2 separate regions of the Homo sapiens genome follow, and region 2 is linked to region 1. Evidence: fine-mapped expression QTL. A gene starts in region 1. The other region holds a variant in brackets. All regions are shown on one strand. Distances are between the middles of the regions.

Region 1 (5,249 bases):
TCAAGTCCTGGAATCAGGAACCCCAAGGGCCCACTTGGTGCTCTACCCCTCTGTGGCCATGCTGGCATCTGAAGCCAGCAAGTCTCAGAGGTTCACCCAAGGTCCTCAACATAGTATCTGGGTATATCTGCTGGTCATTTAGGGCCCAAGGGCTCTTCAGTTAGAAGGTGATGAATACTGCCAGGACTAAGTCCTTCTCAGGGGACTTATCCTTTCTGGCAGTTTATCTGCTCTTGGTCACGACCTCCTAGTCCATCATACACATCTGAATAACTTTCAATCTGAAAGCAGTGAAGAAGGGATCAAGAGGCCCTTCCATCCAGAGTCCCCTTTGTGACTATATACATTTTTTAATGTCTAACTCAGTCATATGGTTTTGCTCTGTGTCCCCACCCAAATCTCATCTTGAATTGTACTCTGATAATTCCCACGTGTTGTGGGAGGGACCCAGTGGGAGATCACTGAATCATGGGGGTGGTTTCTCCCACGCTGTTCTTGTGGTAGTCTCATGAGATCTGATGGTTTTATAAGGAGAAACTCCTTTCGGTTGTCTCTTTTTGCCTGCTGCCATCCACATTAAGATGTGACTTGCTCCTCCTTGCCTTCCACCATGATTGTGAGGCCTCCTCAGCCATGTGGAACTGTAAACCCAATAAACCTCTTTCTTTTATAAATTGCCCAGTCTCAGCTATGTCTTTATTAGCAGTGTGTAAACGGACTAATACACTCAGCATCTAAGGTCCATAAAGCAATCAATATGTGTGTCTGACACACCTTTACCTGTTTACAGGAGCTTAATACGGGTCCTGATTTAGCCAAAATGTCCAAGAACATGTGCATTCAATGTTAGGGGATTCATGGATCCCTTTAGGTAGGATTGCTGGATAAAATACAGGTGTCCAGTTAAATGTGAGTTTCAGATGAACAACAAAGTTTTTTGTTGTTGTTGTTTTCTGAGACAGGGTCTCATTCTGCCACCCAGGCTGGAGTGCAGTGGCATGATCATGGCTCACTCAACATTCTGGGCTCAAGTAATCCTCCTGCCTCAGCCTCCTGAGTAGCTAGGACTACAGGTGCACACCACCACATGTGGCTATTTTTTTTTTGTAGAGATGGGGTCTTGCTATGTTGCCCAGGCTGGTCACAAATAAGTTTTTAGTATAAATATGTCCCCTGCAATATTTGCAGAGATAATAATTATTCTTTTATGTGGGGCAGGGATCCTGATCTTCAAAAGCGCCAGTGTCTAAGAAGTGATGAAGGATTTGCTGAATGAACTGATACACTTGAGTGGCTCCGAAGGCATGAGCAAAACTATTGCACAGAACATACTTACATTTCAAAACCATTTGTTGTTTATCTGACATTAAGATGTGACTGGGCACTTGTAATTTTTTTTTTCTTTTTTTTGAGACGGAGTCTCGCTCTGTTGCCCAGGCTGGAGTGCAGTGGCGCGATCCTGGCTCACTGCAAGCTCCGCCTCCCGGGTTCACGCCATTCTCCTGCCTCAGCCTCCCGAGTAGCTGGGACTACAGGCGCCCGCCACCACGGGCTAATTTTTTGTATTTTTAGTAAAGACGGGGTTTCACCGTGTTAGCCAGGATGGTCTCGATCTCCTGACCTCGTGATCCACCCGCCTCGGCCTCCCAAGTGCTGAGATTACAGGTGTGAGCCACCGCGCCCAGCCTTGTAGTTTTTTACTTGCTAAACTGGCAATCTGATCTTGAGGCCATCCACAGCTTTCCTAGGTTCACAGTATAGAGTAAGAATTTATATAGACTGAAGAAGATTAAGAGTGTTTATTTTTTGTGGAATTATTTAACCACTTAACACTGAAGTACCAGGTGAAGGGTAAATTGAAATAACTCTTTCCACTTCTTTTAGCTCTAAATATCAATCAGGACATTATTATTATGGCTGTTTTCTGGACTTACATCGTTATAGAGTGACTATGAGTTTGATAGTGTCACCAACAATTATGGCCAATAATTTCCATGGTAAATTCCTAGAACAGAAAGATGTTGCATCAAATTCTTGAAATCGCAGACTTAGGAAATTAAGTTACATAAACAGCAGATGTTCAGGCTGAGGAAGGAAAGAAGCTGAAACAAGTACTCCCAATTATTCAACAATCCCTTGAAGCCGCCACTGTAACTCTGGGAATTGAAATACCATTAAGTCCTATCACGGCCACCACTTAGCCTTTTTTCTCTTACTATTATTTGTAATTCCATAATCAAGCTAGTTTTCCTACGAAGTTCTGGGGCAGGAGTTTTCTTTTTTCGGAAATTTCATTTGGATAAAGAAACATGGTCAAAAAGTTACAACGGTGCAAATGGTTATACAAAGAAAAACAAGTCTCTCTTCTATCGTTACCCCTAGTTCCTGGACCGCGGGTTCTTAACTTGGGTTAGGAACTGCAGTCTAAGGGTTTCTAGAGTAATGTGAATTTTCTCAATGCATAATTTTCAATGTACAGATAATTTTGCTCGTTTGTGGGGAGAGGATCCAAACTTTTACCTGAGCCTCAAAAGGGTCCGTGATGCAGAGAACCTGCTGAAGTAACCGATGGCCCCGAGTGACTCGGAACAGGGGGCGCAGATATCCTGTAATAATTTGTCCCCGTGTGAAAAGTCTACCCCTATCCACTCCACTCCACTCCACTCCGGGGCCGCTTGGAAGGGACGCTCTCCGTGGGAGGCATCCAGCTCTTCCTAAGTTTTCCGCCTGCCGCATTCCTCCCCTCCGGCGCGCCGGCGTGCGCTTACGTCATGACGCCGCACACGCAGCCCCGCCCCTGCAGAGATCAGCGCTGGGACGGAACCCGGGTTCCTCTCGAACCGGGATTGTGACGCTTTTGGCCTGGCTGGCCGCTGTTTTCTGTCCCACTTTTTACTCGGGCCTGCGTCCGCTGCCGCCGTCCCTCAGTTTGCCCCCGGAGGAGGCAGGGCGGCCGTGCCTTCTGCCGTGCGCCCGCGTGGCTGCCACCGCCCCTCCGAATCCTCCGGGGCCGCAGAGGGGTTCGCTACGGAGGGAGGTGGGGGCCTTCGGGAGGAGGAGGCGGAGGAGGCGGAGGAGGAGGGAAGGAAGATGGCGGCCGTGGAACTAGAGTGGATCCCAGAGACTCTCTATAACACCGCCATCTCCGCTGTCGTGGACAACTACATCCGCTCCCGCCGAGACATCCGCTCCTTGCCCGAGAACATCCAGTTTGATGTTTACTACAAGGTATGCGCCGTGGGCCTCCTCTCTGCTCTCCTCCAGCAACCCCGGGGGCCGCACCCCCTTCCACGTCTGCGAACCCCCGCAGTTAACCCCTCACCCCTTCCGGCAGACTTGCCTCCCGAAACGTCTGGTGCGGTGTCTGCATTGCCAGTGGAGAAGCACCCCATCTCCCTATGCCCTGTCTCTTAAGCTTTGGGGCCTTGAAGTAATCTTGGGGAGTCTTGCTCCCTGTTGGTGTTCCCTTCTACACAGTGGCCCTCTTGGGTAGGCCTTTTGCGTGGACTTACTCTATCGCGCCCCTGTCCCACCTAGTCCTTTCCTTCTAGCCCGTATCTTCAGGATATTTTCCATCCTCTCCTTCCAATTAAGTGTCAGCATCAGCTGGACTTTTTTCCGTGCTCCTCCCCCCACCCATTCCTACTTTCTCATCTCGCCGCCTTCCTTCCCCGAGTGTTTTGGTGTTTTTGCTTCGTGTTCCTTCGTTTCTCCTTTCTTTTCCCAATTGGGAAGGAGTTAGGGATTATTGGAAATAATCTGTGTGTTTTATTTGCATATTCTTTAAAGCTTTGATTTTTTTGTGGGAGAGGAGGGGCTCTATACTTGAATTAGGGATTTTGTGAAAATGGGAGTGCTGATCAACTGTTTGAAGAGGACAGGGAGAGATCTTTACTGAAAGAAAAAAACACTTTAGATTATGTTCCTGTGTTTGAAAGTTGCAATCTTGCAGCATTCTTAAATCACTCCCCCTCAAAAATCTGAACAGCAAGTCTCCCAAGCCACTCTCCAAGGAGTTTCAAGGGTAAGTGTCCTTAGATGTGGACTATTTTTGCAGTGTTTTCAGAGTGTGGAGAACTTTATGGACTCAGAGCCTGCCCTTTTCTCTCCCCCACATTTGAATGTGAACACTGGATTTATTATTCAGTCTTCCTTGTCTTGAATCCGCGTCGATAACTCCTAGTGTCCAGTAGCCACCCATGCAAAATGTGACTAAAAGTAGAATGTAATTTATTTTTTAGACCTTAAATACTTCCTCTTGATCTGTAAGTTGGCTGGAACAGTGTAAACTGATATTTTAACAGATGTTTATGTTCTTACGTATGTACAGTGTTTTGTGGCAGTTGTTTTATTGGGAAGATTGCCTGCTTTCTCCACCCCTAGATTTTTTTTTTTTTTTTTTTTTTTTTTTCAGAATTAGCAGTTGATGGGCTGCGTTCTACTAAATCCAGCTGCTTTGCACCAATTCTAACAATTAAAGTGGGGTTTCCCCCCTAAATATTTGGAGAAGATTCATTTAGGTCATGCGTATTATTATTTTGGATTTCGAGAAAAAGCTCCCTTTTTTCCTAATCCCTTTGATACATTGATTTACTTTTGTGTATTCTAAGGAAATTTTGTTCATTTAAGATACATTCCTCCCCAGGAAGGACAAATTAGATTTGTCTTTCTCAGCCTGGGAAACTGCAGCTTTGTGTGTGCTCTCTGTCCATTTTATTAAATCATGTGTAATCTTGTACCTCATATGTAATCTCTCAGAGGAAATCATTGGGAATGTAATCCAAGTGTATTTACTAGTTGAATTCGTTCAAAATACTTGAATATCTTTTAGTAACTTTCACTTCTAATTGAAGCTTTTCATTTGAAGATTATTAGTATGAATAGATGGTGCTTTTGTTAGAATTTCTGTTTCACATAGTTCACACAGTTTTAATATTGCTCCTTTTTGGTACACTTTTACTTCTTAATAGTTGTATGCTTATTGGGAGTATGGCACTGTGCTAAGATGAGGGAAGTGTTAAACATGTGCCTGTAACTATGTTGTGCTTTTATGTGTTATTTTGTTTAATCTTCAGAATTAAACTGTGAAGTAGAGTACAGTATAACCTTGCTTTATTGGTGAGAAAGTTAAGTAATTTAATTAAGGTCTCAAACCTGATATTTAGTTCCTGAGTTCCTTGCTCTTTTACTTAGATATCTATCTTAAGATAGTAGATTATTTTAATGAAAGATATTATAACACTAATTTT
Region 2 (5,249 bases), 82 kb after region 1:
AAAAAGGACCAGCCTAATGTAGAAGGTGGTTACTTGGACCAGAGGCTTTAGATTATTATTTTAGATCCTACATATACTTTTATCAGTAGAATGATTTCATTTAGATGTATAATGAAAAAGGATAATGCAAAAATTATGTAATAGATACCAAATTAGGGAAGTTTGGCAATTTCAATGGCATATTTTTAGTCAAGGTACACAGATGGCAGTGCCATAAGCAAGTCTATAAATATCGGCTGCAGCCATCCCCCTCATTTTAAATGTTGCCCTAATAATCAATGCAGTTAACAAGTATATTGGCTGTGTGTCATGAAATAGTTCATGTTCAGATGGAAATGTTAGGTTACTGTATGGTTTATGGAGATTAATGAAAATGAATGCCCAAAAATAAGTCTTAGAAAATCCTCCATTTTTATGGTAAATAGTAATACAACTAGGTCATTTCATTTGAAATCTAGGAGTCAAATGGAAAGATCCCCTAATAATACACCTATTTCACTAACTTGTCTTTCTGTTTATTGGGTTTTGATTTGATTTTTTGTAAGCCAGTCAGGTTATTTAATGATGAGGTAATAATCAAATTTAAGAATTTGTGACATGTAGCAATTCAAGAAACAAAAAGGTATTTTGCTGTTACCTCAATTCTTACTGTAGTAGCCCATCTGATGCTTCTATAGTTAAGAATCTGGGTTCCCCCCCTATTTTCAGGGGTTCATGACTTGGCTGTTAAAGATGTTGCTCCTAGCTAATGCTTGGAGTAGTCTGTGGGTGAATGGATGTGTGTTGAATTTTAGTTTTCTTTTAACATGCATGTTGGGTGAGAGGGGAAAAAAATCTAAGCTGTCTGCCACATTGAGTACAGAAAAGTTGTAGATTTCAAATTTTATTAATATTTTAAGCACTTTTTTGAACTTCCCAACCTTGTTTGAAGCTGTTATTTGCAGTCCTATTAGTTTTGAGCCATTGCATTTAAGTTCCCTAGGAGGGGGTTGGTTGGGGGATGTACTGAAAGAGATGAAGCAAACCCACACCCTAAGATGGTAACTGTGTGATTTAGAAACCTGAGTTTACTCCTCAAATCGAATTATTTTCTTTTTAAATTTTGGAAAGAGTAAATTGACGTACTTGCAGTTTATGAAGCTGCCCCCCACCCCTCAGTTAATTGCAGTCTAATGTCAAGAGGCACTTCTTTATTAATTACCAAATAGTCTTTGTGACCAAGGACTAACATTTTTAAGTTACTCAGCTCTATCCTCATGGGCCTATATATTTAATACCTCCAAAGATATTTTCAGGATAGGCTTTGTATACTTTTATTGGTTATTTAGAATCCAGTGGTATGTTTGTGGTATAGGAATGTCATGGTAAATTGTTTTTCAATAAATATTTTGAAACATGTTTCCATATGAAGTTTTTTTTTCAATCTGTATTTTTTGGTTTTGTGCACATACAGCATTTCCTAGGATAAAAATAAACAAATGACTTACAGCCTCATCCTCCCTAACTCCATTTGAACTCAACTTAGCTCACACTCAGTGATAAAACAACATGGTATGTAGAAGCCTAGGATCACAGGGTGATAATGTCAATTGGCAGCCAGTTGTGTTTTTTTGAAACATCATTATTGGCAGTTTCTCCTTATCACCACTGCTTTAATGTAGTTTTTTTGTAAATCCATATACTTTAATGCATACACTCTAGCTTAAGAAAACATTGCCATTTTGGTTAGGGATATGACTTAATGTGCTATTATTTCTGGTTCTAATGAAGAATAATACCCTATGACTTTAAGTGTAAGATTCATCCTTTAAGTAGGGATGTTTAGGATAAGTTAGATGTGTGCCACTATGATTTATTGGGTTTCTTAAAAATCTTGAAGAAAATAATAAAATTTATCTCACAATAAGTTAACTTGCGCAAACTTTTTACATATGGTGAGGTGCGTAAGGAAGCCCTGGCCAACTTAAAGATTTTTCTGGAGGTTCAGCAAAGTTATGTTAAATTAGGGGCCTTTGGTCTCATCCTTCTCTGACTCTTCTACCCAGTCTTTTCCTAAAGTTCGGTGCTACTCCAGTTGGGTGCATCAGGGAGCTCCGTCAGCACTCGCATGTGTCGCTCAGGTGGCCACTCATGCCTGCATTCCATTTAATAGAGTCAATTGGAATTTTTAGAGCATAATCTTTATGGA[T/C]CCTCAAAGCTGACTTTGCCAAAGGGATTGAGACCCTTACTACCATCAAATCTCTGTCTCTGCTTGGTTAAAAATTGGCTCACTATTGCTTTGTAGTAACCCCTGCCCAGGTATTTTTTCACTTGTGAAAATAATTTGAGAAAGACCTTTGTTCCTAGCCTGTTGGGAAAAGTTTATAATTTTATGAAAATTAAGTACAGAGGCTGCGATCTTAGAAATAATGAAGGTGCCATTTGGCTGCTCCTTAATAGTGCAGACAGAAAACTGCAGTGAACACATGCCAAAACATGATTGAAGCCTTTGGCTGAAACTTTATACATAGAAATAATGATTTGCTCATAACAGGTATCATTAACTGCCACTTTTTATGTTTTCCCTAGAATTTGTAGCCTTGCTGCTTGCTTTTCTTCTGGGTGGCAAAGTTACTACTGGAAAAACACTATAAGTACAAAGTTTTTGGGGTTTTATCTTTGCTTTAGAAGTGGATGTGTACTTCACCTCTTGGCTGTGGAGGAACTTAGTTGCCAGGAAATTTTTTTTTTTTTTTTCAGACGGAGTTTCGCTCTTGTTGCCCAGGCTGGGAGGGCAATGGCACCGTCTTGGCTCACTGCAACCTCCGCCTCCCGGGTTCCAGCGATTCTCCTGCCTCAGCCTTCCGAGTAGCTGGGATTACAGGCTCCTGCCACCACGCCTGGCTAGGAAATTTTTTGTTGTTAATATGACATTTGGATTAATCTCCAGCTTCAACAGTACTTCTTTTGTCCATAAATCTCAGGAATGTTTTAGGCAGAAAACTGGTTTTACCCTGTTGATAATCAGAAGGAGTGTGCTTTAGGATTTATTGCATAATACTATTCTTTAATTGCAATCCTAGGTATCTATAGCATGAGTGGCCTTAGTGAGTTTGTTGAAGTGCACATGTTTTTCAAGAGTAAAATTTAAGATTAAAAATATATCCTATATATAGATATCTAGAAAACTTGGTTTGTGGTGCACAGTTAAGTGTTGGATCACTAAATAACCATTGCAGGTACCGTTTGTGTAACATTACTCATTTCTGTATATTCCTTTTATGGGAAGATATTTTGCCATGGTAACTAAAACTTTTCAGTTCTACTTTTATGATGTGAATGAATGCTACGTTTTATTAAATATTACCAGGTCAGTACTATTTTTATACTTTATTAAGCAACAGGGGATTTTAGTTTAATAGGCTCAAAATAAAAAGTTCTTAATGGAACAGTTAAAAACAAAACACTAACAATCTTTACGTGAAAATCCCCACTAATAGTGCCACAATAATTTCTATAGAAATATCTAAGGTCATTAAATAGATTTTTGAAGACGGTTCTTCATTGTGTCAGGATGACCTTTCATATCATTCTCACCAACTTGTAGTGCCCACCGTTATTTGTAACTATTAAACCATACTAAGTATGTTTGTAACCAGCATTGTGATATATTCTGTACTTGTATTGCTAAAAATGAATTATTGACCTAATAAATATAGTGTTCCTGCATTCATAGTGTATCTGTTTCCAATTTGGTTTTGATTGCTTTTGGTTGGGATTAAGCTTTGCAGACTGTTTTTATTAGAGAACAGTGTGAGAGAAACTGTTGGAACTAGAACAAAAGTGCTCTTGTTCAAGAAAATTAAGATGTGTGGCAGAGGAGGCGCATGGTAACATCTGGAGATTGTGCTGATGAAAAGCACTTGGAAAAAGACAAAGCACTGCATTAATGCAAAGGGATTTTTTAGTCTTTACAAAAGTATACCATTCTTTTAAGAATCCTCTCACTCTAAAGGCTGAAGATGAATGATGAGACCTGGTAAAGTTCTGCTGGAATAGTGAAGAAAAGCCTAGATTGGAGTTTCAGTTCCAGCTGTCTCTGAACTGGAAGATTCTGAGTTACGTCATTCCAGCCCTCTTTGTGTTTTATTTCCTCACATGAATAAGGGGGTAAAATCAGGTCTTTAAAAAACTTCACCATGAAACAGCATAAATCTGAAGGACTCAGAAACCAGTTGTAGGAAACGAAGCCATATTTTTAAAGATTAGGAAGAAAATATTGTAGACAAAATCCCACCATCACTTGGAATATAGTCAGCACCAGCTTCACTGCCTGCCACCTTCAGTGATACTGAATTTAAAAATGTTTCTTTTTACATCTCCATGACTGAACCTCTGAACATGCGATTTCGTCGTCCTTGTGGAATGCCATTTCCTGGATAGTGTTGCTCATCTGTCAAGCTCAAAGATCAAGGGAACCCTTCCCTTAAAGTTTGAGTTGCCACTTGGTATTAATGCAGCATTTTAGAGCTTTGTGAAAGCAATTACCATATGGCCATATAACTTACAGTGTTAAGACTCTTTCCAACTTGTAAACTTTGCTGATCTGTGTATTCAACATAGAGTTTATCCTGTGACAGATACTGTCCTGAGTGTGTTAGCAAACCACACTCAGTTACTTTAAGCGCACATTTCTATAGACAAATGCCCATTAGGATGGCTATTACAGAAAGTAAGTGTTGGCAAGGATGTGCAGAAATGAGAGCCCTTGTGCACTGTTGACAGGAATGTAAAATGCTGCATCTGCTGTGAAAAACTATCACCTGTGCTCAAAAAATTAAAAACAATTACTCTTATGATCCAGCAATTCAACTTCTGGGTATAGATCCAAAAGAATTGAAAGGGTCTTGAACAGATATTTATATACCCGTGTAGCAGCATTATTTGCAGTAGCCAAAAGCGAAAGCAACCTAAATGTCTTAACAATGCATGAACAGATAAATATGGCAGGCCAGGCGTGGTGGCTCATGTGTATTCCTAACTCTGGGAGGCAGGCCGACGCAGGAGGATTATTTGAGCCCAGGAGTTCGAGACCAGCCTGGGCAACAAGGTGAAATGCTGTCTCTACAAAAAATACAAAAAAATAATTAGCTGGGCGTGGTGGCACACACCTGTAGTCCCAGCTACTCAGGAGGCTGAGGTGGGAGGATTGCTTGAGCCCAGGAGGTTGAGGCTGAGTGAGCCGTGATCACACCACACTGCACTCCAGC

Which allele goes with the higher level. Alleles are on the strand shown, and positions count from the first base shown. SD is a standard deviation of normalised expression in the study named.
As copies of C replace T in region 2, the expression in monocytes after R848 of the gene that starts at base 2,780 in region 1 goes up (large effect, 0.80 SD a copy in Quach 2016).

What was found. PIP is the estimated chance that this variant, and not a neighbour inherited with it, causes the effect. A credible set is the group of variants that fine-mapping cannot tell apart.
Region 2: its variant is the best candidate, but not a certain one, in a credible set for the expression of APPBP2 in monocytes after R848 (Quach 2016, PIP 0.87).

The regions. Positions count from the first base shown.
Region 1 is chr17:60,523,773-60,529,021 of GRCh38, reverse strand. It overlaps APPBP2 (amyloid beta precursor protein binding protein 2), which reads left to right and starts at 2,780. Exons shown (of 13, transcript NM_006380.5): 1 at 2,780-3,228. The coding sequence starts at 3,091. RefSeq lists a silencer at 2,951-3,090 and enhancers at 3,171-3,440, 3,161-3,869.
Region 2 is chr17:60,441,617-60,446,865 of GRCh38, reverse strand. APPBP2 (amyloid beta precursor protein binding protein 2) reads left to right here. Exons shown (of 13, transcript NM_006380.5): 13 at 1-3,708. Among named protein-coding and RNA genes, the nearest start is that of CHCT1, 22 kb to the right of the region's middle. The variant T/C (reference allele first, on the strand shown) is at 2,189.